Regions from separate parts of the Homo sapiens genome. Here region 1 is linked to region 2. Evidence: fine-mapped expression QTL. A gene starts in region 2. The other region holds a variant in brackets. All regions are shown on one strand. Distances are from middle to middle.

The links. PIP is the estimated chance that this variant, and not a neighbour inherited with it, causes the effect. A credible set is the group of variants that fine-mapping cannot tell apart.
Region 1: its variant is the best candidate, but not a certain one, in a credible set for the expression of GTF2E2 in spinal cord (GTEx, PIP 0.64).

The regions. Positions count from the first base shown.
Region 1 is chr8:30,634,402-30,639,788 of GRCh38, reverse strand. It overlaps GTF2E2 (general transcription factor IIE subunit 2), which reads left to right. Exons shown (of 8, transcript NM_002095.6): 3 at 4,666-4,757. It overlaps SMIM18 (small integral membrane protein 18), which reads right to left and starts at 1,209. Exons shown (of 3, transcript NM_001206847.2): 1 at 1,150-1,209. The variant C/T (reference allele first, on the strand shown) is at 2,206.
Region 2 is chr8:30,655,157-30,660,543 of GRCh38, reverse strand. GTF2E2 (general transcription factor IIE subunit 2) reads left to right here and starts at 2,308. Exons shown (of 8, transcript NM_002095.6): 1 at 2,308-2,571. RefSeq lists enhancers at 1,765-2,436, 3,108-3,779 and silencers at 2,214-2,623, 2,634-2,723.

The DNA.
Region 1 (5,387 bases), 21 kb after region 2:
AAATTATGAAGAAAAAAAAAACAAAAACCCTTTAAAGATTAAATAAACTTACCAGCAAGGTAAAAGGACAGAAGCTGGCTCTTTAGGTCCGATATAGTATATAGATGGAGTTCTAACATCTAGTAAATAACTAAATTTTCATGCTTGAATAGTATAAAATTAGAAATTTGGTCAGCAGTTAATATTAATTTTTAATAGACATGAATGATTGCTCTGAGCCACGAAGATAATCTTGTTACCTAGAAAGGTACTTACTCTCCTTTCTTAACCAGTTCTTCTTAGGACATATTTTTATTTTAAAATGCAGTTTATCAAAAGGACTTACTTTGTATTTATTTTGAGGATCAGTTTAAGAATGACTTCAACATTATATTTAAATGGTGTGATAAATTGATATCAAAAATGAAAGGCTATTTAAGAAGGTTTTTGTTTAATAGCATGACTTTATATTACGAGAGAGAAATTTCACAGTGAAGAAATACTTTAATTAAATGTTAAGGAAGTCTGAAGCTGTATAAATTATCTGTTCAGTGTAGTATAATGCAGCCCATATAGTGATACCTTTTATGATCTTTTATATAAAAATTAAAATTGTGATAATTTCTTGGCATTCTCTGCATCTACATTCAAAGCAAAATAAAAATAATTTTGAACTATTTTCTCATATTCTAAAAAATATAACAAACTTTCTTATAAGTAACTATTTTTTAGCAGCCAATATCATTTGCACATAGAATCAGAAAGCTTTAGTCTGGAATTCGCTTTTGATCTGGGTTTTTCTTTAAGAAAAATCCTTTGTTAAGACAGACCAAACTGCAGAAATGAAATCGCTCAGAGAAAATGAAATTAGCAAGTAACCAGTTAAAATAAAAAGCTATGGTTTACTCTGAGGTCTGGATATAGATCAGGTTCATGTAAAATGTAATGAATTTTCCATTAAGGCACAGATGGTAAGGGTGCTTATCAAATAGCACAAGGCAGTCTTCATATTTTCATAATAAAATCCTACCAAGCGGTGAAACGAATACATTGCTTTTTCTTGATATTTAGTAGGAGCAAAGCTTTCTGGTTGATTTTTCAGGGTAAAATATTTTCCTATTGCATCATAAGGACATGTACCACTAAATAAAAAAGATCATATAAACCTACCTCTTGTCTGAGAGGATGCTGCTGAAGCGATGGTATCGTCTGTTTGTAATGCAGTCTAGTGCACAGCCAAGATGGAGCTGTGCTTCTATTGGTTGAACCACAATGGAGCTGACAGTTTCCTCTATGTTCATTTGCATTAAGTCTTGCCACCCTTAAGAGTAAATCATTCATAAACTTGAATAGAGCTGTCTGGGGTATCAACTGTCATCCCTTCTCCTTTATTTTTTTGTTCTTAAGCTAAATTCCTATATAGGAATTTGTGAGTTACTAACAAATTGATGATTCTTTAGTGTTTCATTATAAAATTTCAGATCCTTCAGTGAATACTTCAGTGCTAGGGCTGGAAGATAATGTCGGGAAAGGTAGTAACCTAGGAAACAAACAGTCCAGGTTTGCCAGCCTGATATTTCCTTCAGGAAGTGTGCATAAAATCTTATAAATTTTTCTTGTTCTTCCTTTTCTTTCATTACTTGTTCCGTATATAATTTTTGCACTCTGGAAGTGATTATTTCCATGTGGTGGTTTGATTTAGGAGGAATTATGAAGGAAAATAATTGGCTTTTAGCTCTGCAAGTTGGAAGAGGGCTCATTTAGGTAAATACACTACCTGCATTCAAAAAATAGTCTCTAAAATGTAAATGGCAAAGTGATCTCCAGGTTGGCTCTTTAGAGACAGAGTATTTTTAGTTACTGTGTATTATTTAGAGTTATGGTCTAAGCACAACAGAATGAAGGTTTTTAATTATGGGAGTGGCTGTTAACAACAGCAGCAGACCAGGTACATGCTATGTAGACTTCTTTTTTAAAATTATAGATGAAGGCTGGGAGCGGTGGCCCATGCCTGTAATCCCAGCACTTTGAGAGGCTGAGTTGGGTGGATCACAGGGTCAGGAGTTCAAGACCAGCCTGGCCAAGATGGTGAAACCCCATCTCTACTAAAGTACAAAAATTAGCCAGGCACGGTGGCAGTCTCCTGTAATCCCAGCTATTCAGGAGGTTGAGGCAGGAGAATTGCTTGAACCCGAATGGCAGAGGTTGCAGTGAGTTGAGATCACA[C/T]CACTGCTCTCCAGCCTGGGCGACAGAGTGAGACTCCATCTCAAATAAAATAAAATAAAATAAATAAAATAAAATTATAGATGAATTGGTACATTAGTTTCTGGGGCCATAAAGGAATGCATAGAAATATCTGTATTATAGTCATTCATTCAACAAATATTTATTGAGTGTTTACTAAGCTTGACATTGAGTTAGTAGTAGATGCCAGAGACATAAGCATCATGTCTCATAAGCACAACTGTTTGTGATTCATAATTGGCCATTTGTGTGGTGTTTGTCCTTAACACATTGTCATCTCTTTTTTCATAGTCTTCCCAGTTGTTTATACAGTTGCGTGGGGTAAGCTTAATATTATTTTACTTAAACAAGCATTAAATGTGCAGTCACAGATTTCTGTACTTTGACAAAATGGCCAGTTTCAGATGGAATAATCTGTGTAAAGGCTGTTTATTACAGGGTTTACACTGGATTTGAATCTATACTCTGCTGCTTACTACCCTCAATTTTATTATATTTAAAAGGGGACAGTAATACTTCTTAAGTTGGATTTTTTGGGAGGGATTACGTATGAATATTTACCATAGTGTTTAGCAGATAATAAATATTGGTTACTTTTATTACAGATGTGCTGAACACCTTGGGAGAATGAACTACGTAGGTAATATTTCATAATTGAAACAGTGAATGGAAAAGCACCTATAAGGCATTCTTTTTTTTTTTTTTTTTAATTTTGAGACGGAGTCTCACTCTGTTGCCAGGCTGGAGTGCAGTGGCACTATCTCGGCTCACTGCAACCTCCAACTCTCTCGTTCAAGTGATTCTCCCAAGTAGCTGAGACTACAGGCACGTGCCATTATGCCCAGCTAATTTTTGTATTTTTGGTAGAGACGGGGTTTCACCATGTTGGCCAGGATGGTCTCGATTTCCTGACCTCATGATCTGCCCACCTGGGCTTCCCAACTGTAAGGCATTCTTAATGTTATTGTTACTTTTGGAAACATGGTAGACTTCAGTGTGCCAATTAATTAAGATTGTAACAAAGTTAGTTTTAAAGGAAAATTGCATATGAAGTTTCATTTTAGTCTCAAAAAAGGATACTCAATAAAGACTTCACTAATCTCAAAGGAGTATGGTATTGCCATCTAGAAGCTGTTCTTTTGGATCTCTGACAGTTGTTACATTTGACTTGTGGTTGTTCTAATGCAATCTTTTGTTTAAATTATTATTACCAACCTGGTGCCAGAGATTGGTTCTCCTCTCCCCTTTTACTTAACCTCTCTCTTTGTGGATCAGCCACATGGGAACTTTATAATATCTGATCTCATGCCTTGCTAATAGAATGTGTACTTCTAAAATGTTTTTCTAGTATTTATGATGGATTTTTTACTGTTCCTGGTTATGACTAATGGAATGCATTTGTGATGCAGTGGTGACATTAGGGTTTCTGCTTGTAAGAATGCAACAAAATGATAGATATTTTGAAACAAATGATCTTTTGTACAGGGTTTTCCACACCAGATAGAGAAGGAGAGGGGGGTGTTTCTCAAAGTGGGTGGGTAGTGCTGTGATGCTTTTTAAAGTAAGCATCCATGTTCATGCAGTGGCAGTGCCTGTGGCTTTTTATTCCTAATTTATCTGTAAAGTTTACTTTAAAATAATTGTGATATCTTTTTTCTATTAGTTTCCATTAATTCCTATTTTTTTGGTCTTAAATTGGTAAGCAGAAATTGATGTAAAAAGTGGTATATTGAACTTTTCTTCCCTCAGAAGTAATCCACTCCTTGTGTTAGCTTTATGGATGGGATTGAGGTTTGTATTGTTTCCTTGTTTAATAAAGTGTACTTCTGATTATGGAGCGAGTCTAATCAGAGTTAAGATAAGAATGAGATAAAGGAGAAAGGGGCCTGGTGCAGTAGCTCACACCTGTAACCCCAGCACTTTGGGAGGCTGAGATGGGTGAATCTCTTGAGTCCAGGAGTTTGAGACCAGCCTGGGCAACATGGCGAAACCCCATCTCTACAAAAAATAAAAAAATTAGCCAGGCATGGTGGTGTGCACCTGTAGTCCCAGCCTCTCAGAAGGCTGAGGTGGGAGAATCACCTGAGCCTGGGAAGTTGAGGGTGTAGTGAGCTGTGATTGTGCCATTGAACTTCAGCCTGGGCAATGGGAATGCGACCCTGTCTCAAAAAATATAATAAAAAATAATGTGATAAAGATATTTATAAAAGAATTGTGGTTTGGTGTTTTAAGTTATTTATACTTTGTTTCTACCCTTAGTGAGAAAATTGGTACTTTAATGTATATACTCAAAGATTGTGTATTTTTCACCAGAATATTACAGGGTAGAATATACTAGATGAAAAACTCAAGAAATATGTTACCAGCATTAAAATTATTTTAGCTGCTCAAGAGTCATAATCACACATAATATGACGATGTTATTTTGAACTTCATTTGCAGATCATAGCAATGGATCATTTAACTTGAAAGCTTTGTCAGGAAGCTCTGGATATAAGTTTGGTGTTCTTGCTAAGATTGTGAATTACATGAAGGTAAGTACTTTTCTCAGATAGCAAAAGTCCTATTTAACTTTTTGGCAAAAGAAGGAGATTAGGGTTTTCAGAAGTTAAATTTCTGTATACATCAAAATTTATCAAAATTGTGCATTTTCAGTATGTGCAGTTTATTGTATGCCAATTATACCTCAAGCCTTTTACATTGTATTAATTTGGCATTGTGGCGAGTTACCAAAGCATATTTAATCTGCATTAACTCAAGGGTACAGTTTAAGCTCACCATTTCACTTAATAAGAGTGTGCCTAGGCAGTAGGTATATCACCTCTTAATGAATACAGGCTGGCAAAACCAATGGGAGGATGTGATTGATTTTTCAGGTTATTACTTCCATTGATGTGAGAAGTAAAAAGTACATAGTTCAGGCAGATGATGGTGATGGCTTCTCTGCATCTTGGAGGAGAAAATTAGACATTTACTGAGAGTCTTAGAAAAACATTGACTCACAAAAGAATTAGAATTTAATGTTTGATGGAAGGTTTAGTATTTTTTGAATACAAAGTTTTGATCATATAAGATTTTGGCTTTACTTTGAATCTTTTTTTTTCCCTTTTCTTTTTTTTTGAGACAGTCTTGCTCCGTTACCCAGGCTGGAGTGCAGTGGCACG
Region 2 (5,387 bases):
TAATGTAATAAGGTTTCCTGGGGTTTGTATGAGAGGGTTTCAATGATATTAATAACAAGAGCTAACTTCTGGGTAAAGGGGACACAATTGAGATTTGAGAGTCTGGATTATAGATAGTACATTCTGATATTATTAGTAGCTTAGCTGTTTCAACTGGCTGAAATGAGTCAAGATATTGACATGAAATTACTCACTGTAAGCGTTTATTGAGCACCTTCTTTGTGAAAGATTTAATTCTGTAAAGATTCTCTAATTGTTAGATTTCTAAGTCTCAAGGGAAGAGATAGTGAATATGTGTCAAAGTTTTATTTAACGCAAGAAATGTAGACCTGCCAAGTGAGAACAGAGACTATTCAGAGCTTGCTATAGCAATAGGGGCAGCGACCACACTTGAGTTTGGCAGAGACTCAAAAGCAATCGGGAAGAGGGGAGACTTTACAGTGGAGGAAAAAAGGGATGCTTCTGATGTGTTCTGATTTAGGGATGTTGGCAGGGGAAGCTGGAAGTTGTCTAACTTGAAGCAGGAAACTTAACAGGATTGGTTTGGGAAGAATATTTGGCTTTCTCTGGCTGATACTGGTGTCTGAGGACAGAGAGGTTAAAATAGAAAAGTTGGCAGCCTTCTTGAGAAAATTCTGACCATTTTGAGCTGATTGCTGTAGAGGTTATGGTTTGGCTTATGTGAGTTAGAGTGTTATTATCATATGCGGTTTAGCCATTGTCCATATGTATAAGTCTCTCACTCATTAATAAGGGAGCCAGCAGAATCATAAAACGGATTTCTACCAGTTCTGAAAAATGATATTTATATAATCGTTGGGGAAAGGAATGCTGAAATAAAACTGCTCAGTTGATACAAAACCGGTTAATTTTTCTCAGAAAAATGCAACCTTAACCTTTGGAATTTTATCTATCTATCTATCTATCTATCTATCTATCTATCTATCTATCTATCTATATACACACTGAATTCCCTGCCCCTTTTTCCCCTAACACCTCATCAGTTTCCTACCAATTGATGTTTGATTTCATCCTTTTGTAAATCTTCTGGGCCCTAATCAATTGTTATTCAAACAAAGTTACATTTCCTGTGGGTGTCAGATGATCAAGTAGGCTTATTACAAAATTCTCTAGAATGAAACTAATAAAAGTCACAAAATATTATCTTTTGACTTTTTTCCAAGTTTTGAATAAAATTTTAGGTATTTTCTCACTTAATTTTCACCACAGTCCAATGCAAGTAACTCATTGTAGTAGTACAATGATTATCCCCATTTCCCCGATGAGAAAACTGAGCCACAGTTTCAGTAACTTGAAGAGTAACCAGTAATTCAACGACAGCCACAGAATGGCTGAGCACTGGCTGTACTGCCGCTTTAGGTTATAAGAGTGAGGGAAGGCCTGCCACGCTGCAGGTTTCGGGCAATGAAATTATTTTTTCCACTGCTTTATTTCCACCCATTTATCTGGCTTCTAAATCCAAAATCCTTTTCTAAGACAGTTCACAGGGGTGGAGGGAAGAGGCTGGGCTGTGCTCCACATCAGGCTGCCTTTGCTAGCTGTGTTGTCTTGAGCAAGTCATTTATTAATTAGCTTCCTGGCCCTCTGTTCTTCGCTTGTAAAAGAGCTGGAACCGCGTTCTCGGTGTGCAGGTGCTGGTGTGTGGCGCTGGGGTAAACTCACAAAATAACCGTTGAGGCCGGGCGCGGTGGCTCACGCCTGTAATCCCAGCACTTTGGGAAGACGAGGCGGGCAAATCGCTTGAATTCAGGAGTTCGAGACCAGCCTGGGCAACATTGTGAGACCCTATTAATACAAACAACAACAACAATAATAACCAAAAATAGTCCGTCGTGGTGGCACTCGCCTGTGATCCCAGCTACTCCGGAGGCTGAGGTGGGAGAATGGCTTGAGCCCAGGAGCGGAGGTTGCAGTGAGCCGAGATCGCGCCACTGCCCTCCAGCCTGGGTGACCGAGTGAGATCACGTCTCTAATAAGAAAAAGACAAAAAACACAAAGTAACCATTGAAAGATAGCGTCGTCGGCTGGGTTCACCACATCCCAGCGCACGCCGGAGCAGGCTGTAGCAGTTTTAATAAAGTGTCTATAAAGAAAGCTGCCTTCCATCTTCAGTGGCGCCGCCTCCCACTTCAGTCCCCTTCTCGGCCCCACCCCAGCCCTTCCCTCGTTGTCATGGAGGCCCCAGGACGCCAGAGCGGGATAGTTCCGCTCCCGCGGCACCAGAGGCGGGGCACGCAATGACGCATGCGCTCGCTTGGCTGCCCTGGCGCCGCGGTGGCTGCCGGGACTGAGCTCCTAGCACCCGATCGGGAAGTGGCGGGCGGAGTCCCGGGTCCAGTCGCCGCCTCAGCTACCGCCGCTGCCGCCGCCGCCGCCGCCACCGCCAGTGGTGAGACCCCGACCTGGCGGGTCAGCGCTGGGCGTGCGTGCGGGCAGGCGGGGGCGCTGACGAGAAGCAGGAAGAGGGTGCAGTGCCGGCGTGGGCGGCCGGCCGAGGCGGAGGCGCAGGAAGGGGGCGGCGAGTCGTGCGAGGCTGCCCTTCTCACTCAGGTAGGGGCTGCGGCCGCCGGGTGTGGGGCGCAGAGCCCCGGCTTGCTGTTCCCTGGGACGCAGGCGCGCCGCCGCCTCCCGGGAGGCTGAGCGTGACCTCCACCTCACGGGAAGCTGGGACCGCCGTTCTCGAAGCGAAACACCCAGCACGCGAACCGTTCCCCGGAGCATTGTCTTTAGGCCAGAGGTTCATTGAGCAAACTTTTGGGTTGGAAAGAGGGAAAATTCGCGGTCTGCCGCCTGACTGTGCCTCTTCCAAGCCTCCAAGTTCACGGGCGCGGTAGCCAAGCGAACCGTGTGTGGAGTTTGAGCAGCCGCGGGGTCCAGCCAGCTCAAGACTGTGATTTAAAATGATGCTCATACGCGGACTGCTTTCTAGGCTACCTTTTGGAGATTTGGTTTGTGATGATCCCTAAACTTTAACGATAGTAGTTGATTTCTGCAGTCTAAACAACGCTGCGGCCCCCTTTTCGCCCACCTCCCCACTTCCGTCATTTAAGGGCGAAGCAGCCTGCTTTTCATAGCCGGGTCCTGAGGTGCCAGGGACACTAACGAGGCTGGGTAAAAGTGAAAGAGAGGGGAAGTAGTAAGGTTGAAAGAGGTCGAATGGTGGCAAGAATCGTGGGCTTGGAGGCAGATTTCAGTTTAATTTTTGGGTTTTCCGTGTCTGCCCACGGAGGAACCAGCCAACTCCTTGAGTTGTGGTTTTGTTTAATTGTAAAATGGACATGGTGATGTAGCCTGTTTACTCCATAGGGGGGTCCAGAGATCTAAAACTTAGTACACATATTGGGTAGTCTTTGAAAAAGGAGGAAAAGTTAGGCGGAGCACGTGATGGTGAAAGACAGACATTGCGAAGCTTTCTGCTCTAGATGCCTTTGAACGTTCCCGAACCTCACAGGTGGCCTTTGTTTTAAAGGCCTTTACCAGCGTTCCAGGTCTGGTGTAAGGAGCACTTGAGTTAGGAGTCAGGAGGTTTGGTTCCTGGCCCTGGCTCTTCCATCTGTGCGACCTTAACCAGACAGCTTCACTTCAGATTTCACGTATTAAAATAGGAATAACACTAATACCTGTTTGCTCCTAGAGTTGCGAGGGTCAAATACTGTAAGCATTTAGTTTGTTGTAAACTGTACGGCTTTATTTACTTTTTTTTTTTTTTTTTTCTGAGACGGAGTCTCGCACTGTCGCCCGGGCTGGAGTGCAGTGGCGCGATCTTGGCTTACTGCAAGCTCCACGTCCCTGGTTCAAGCGATTCTCCTGCCTCAGCCTCCCAAGTAGTTGGGATTACAGGCACCCGCAACGACACCCTGCACATTTTTTAAATTTTTAATGGAGACGGAGTTTCACCATGTTGGCCAGACTCGTCTAGAACTCCTGACCTCGTGATCCGCCCTCCTCGGCCTCCCAAAGTGCTGGGATTACAGGCGTGAGCCGCTGCGCCCGGCCTATTTAAATCTTTTAGAGTAATTTTTTTAAAGTCCAGATTGAGGTCCTGCCTTTGCAACGTGAAATAAGACACAAATGTTTCCTGTTCTAGAAATTTACTTTTTGCTCCCACCTTCTCACTTGACAATTCTCCTTTCTTCTTCTTGGCCCCACGCTTTCCCTCCTCCCAAGGCTGTCTCCTACTTTCCTCAGCCCGGTAAATCATTCCCTTCTTTCAGATCCAACTCAAAATAGTAATACTGAAATAACACGTTTTTATGACTTTACTGTTTAAAAAATAACATACACATTTTCTCATTCTTACAATTGGGCTGGATGTGGACAGCTTTCATAGCGTCCTCATTTCACTTATGAAATTGAATGTAGAGGCCTTGTGGGTTGCCTAGCCAGGTGGCTTTAGGAATTGAAACTGAGGCCGGGTGCGGTGACTCACGCCTGTAATCTAAGCACTTTGGGAGGCTGAGGTGGGCGGATCACTTGAGGTCAGGAGTTCAAGATCAGCTTGGCCAACATGGTGAATGAACCCCGTCTCTACTAAAAATACAGACATTGGCGGGGCGTGGTGCTGCGCGCCTGTAGTCCCAGCTACTCGGGAGGCTGAGCCAGGAGAATCGCTTGAGCCCAGGAGGCGGAGGTTGCATTGAGCCGAGATTGCACCACTGCACTCTGCCAGCCTGGGCGGCAGAGCGAGACTCTGTCTCAAAAAAAAAGAAAAAAAAATTGAAACTGAGAGAAGGCAGGTTTTTGATTCACCGTCCAGTGATTGTTCACGCCTTAATTGAAATTCAGTCTGATTATTTCTTATCAATGCTTATATTTAAAATTTTTAGCTCAATGCTTCCATTTTCTCAAATCTAAGCAGCATGTAGACAAGGATTTATCTTCCGTAACCTTTCAAAGCTTAGAGCACAGTGCCTCACAAACAAGATATTTAATAAAGGCTTGTGAAACCAGTAATAATGGGACCAGAGCAATTTAAAGATGATGTTCCATGTGTTGTTCATTTAACAAATATTTATTGAGCTATCTGTGCTTAAAAGCTTTCAAAGTATGAGTCTTTTTCCTCCCAGCTGACACTAGTCTTAACAGTGTCAAATTCATTTATATAGTCAGCTTGAGGTCTTCATAGACCCTCTGTAGGGTTCTAGCAGAGTTCAGAAGAGAGGTGTGTTTAGAATTCTTGTTGGTTGACCTGTAGCTTCCCTGGTTGTAGTGAAATTGCTTTGAGTTGTAATTTTAGAACTAGACAAACAACAACCACAACATAGAAGTTGCCTCAAACCACCTCCCTCCAAATTGGAAATTTTCTGTAGACTTTTTTTTTTTTTTTGAGACAGAGTTTTGCTGTATCCCCCAGGCTGGAGGGCAGT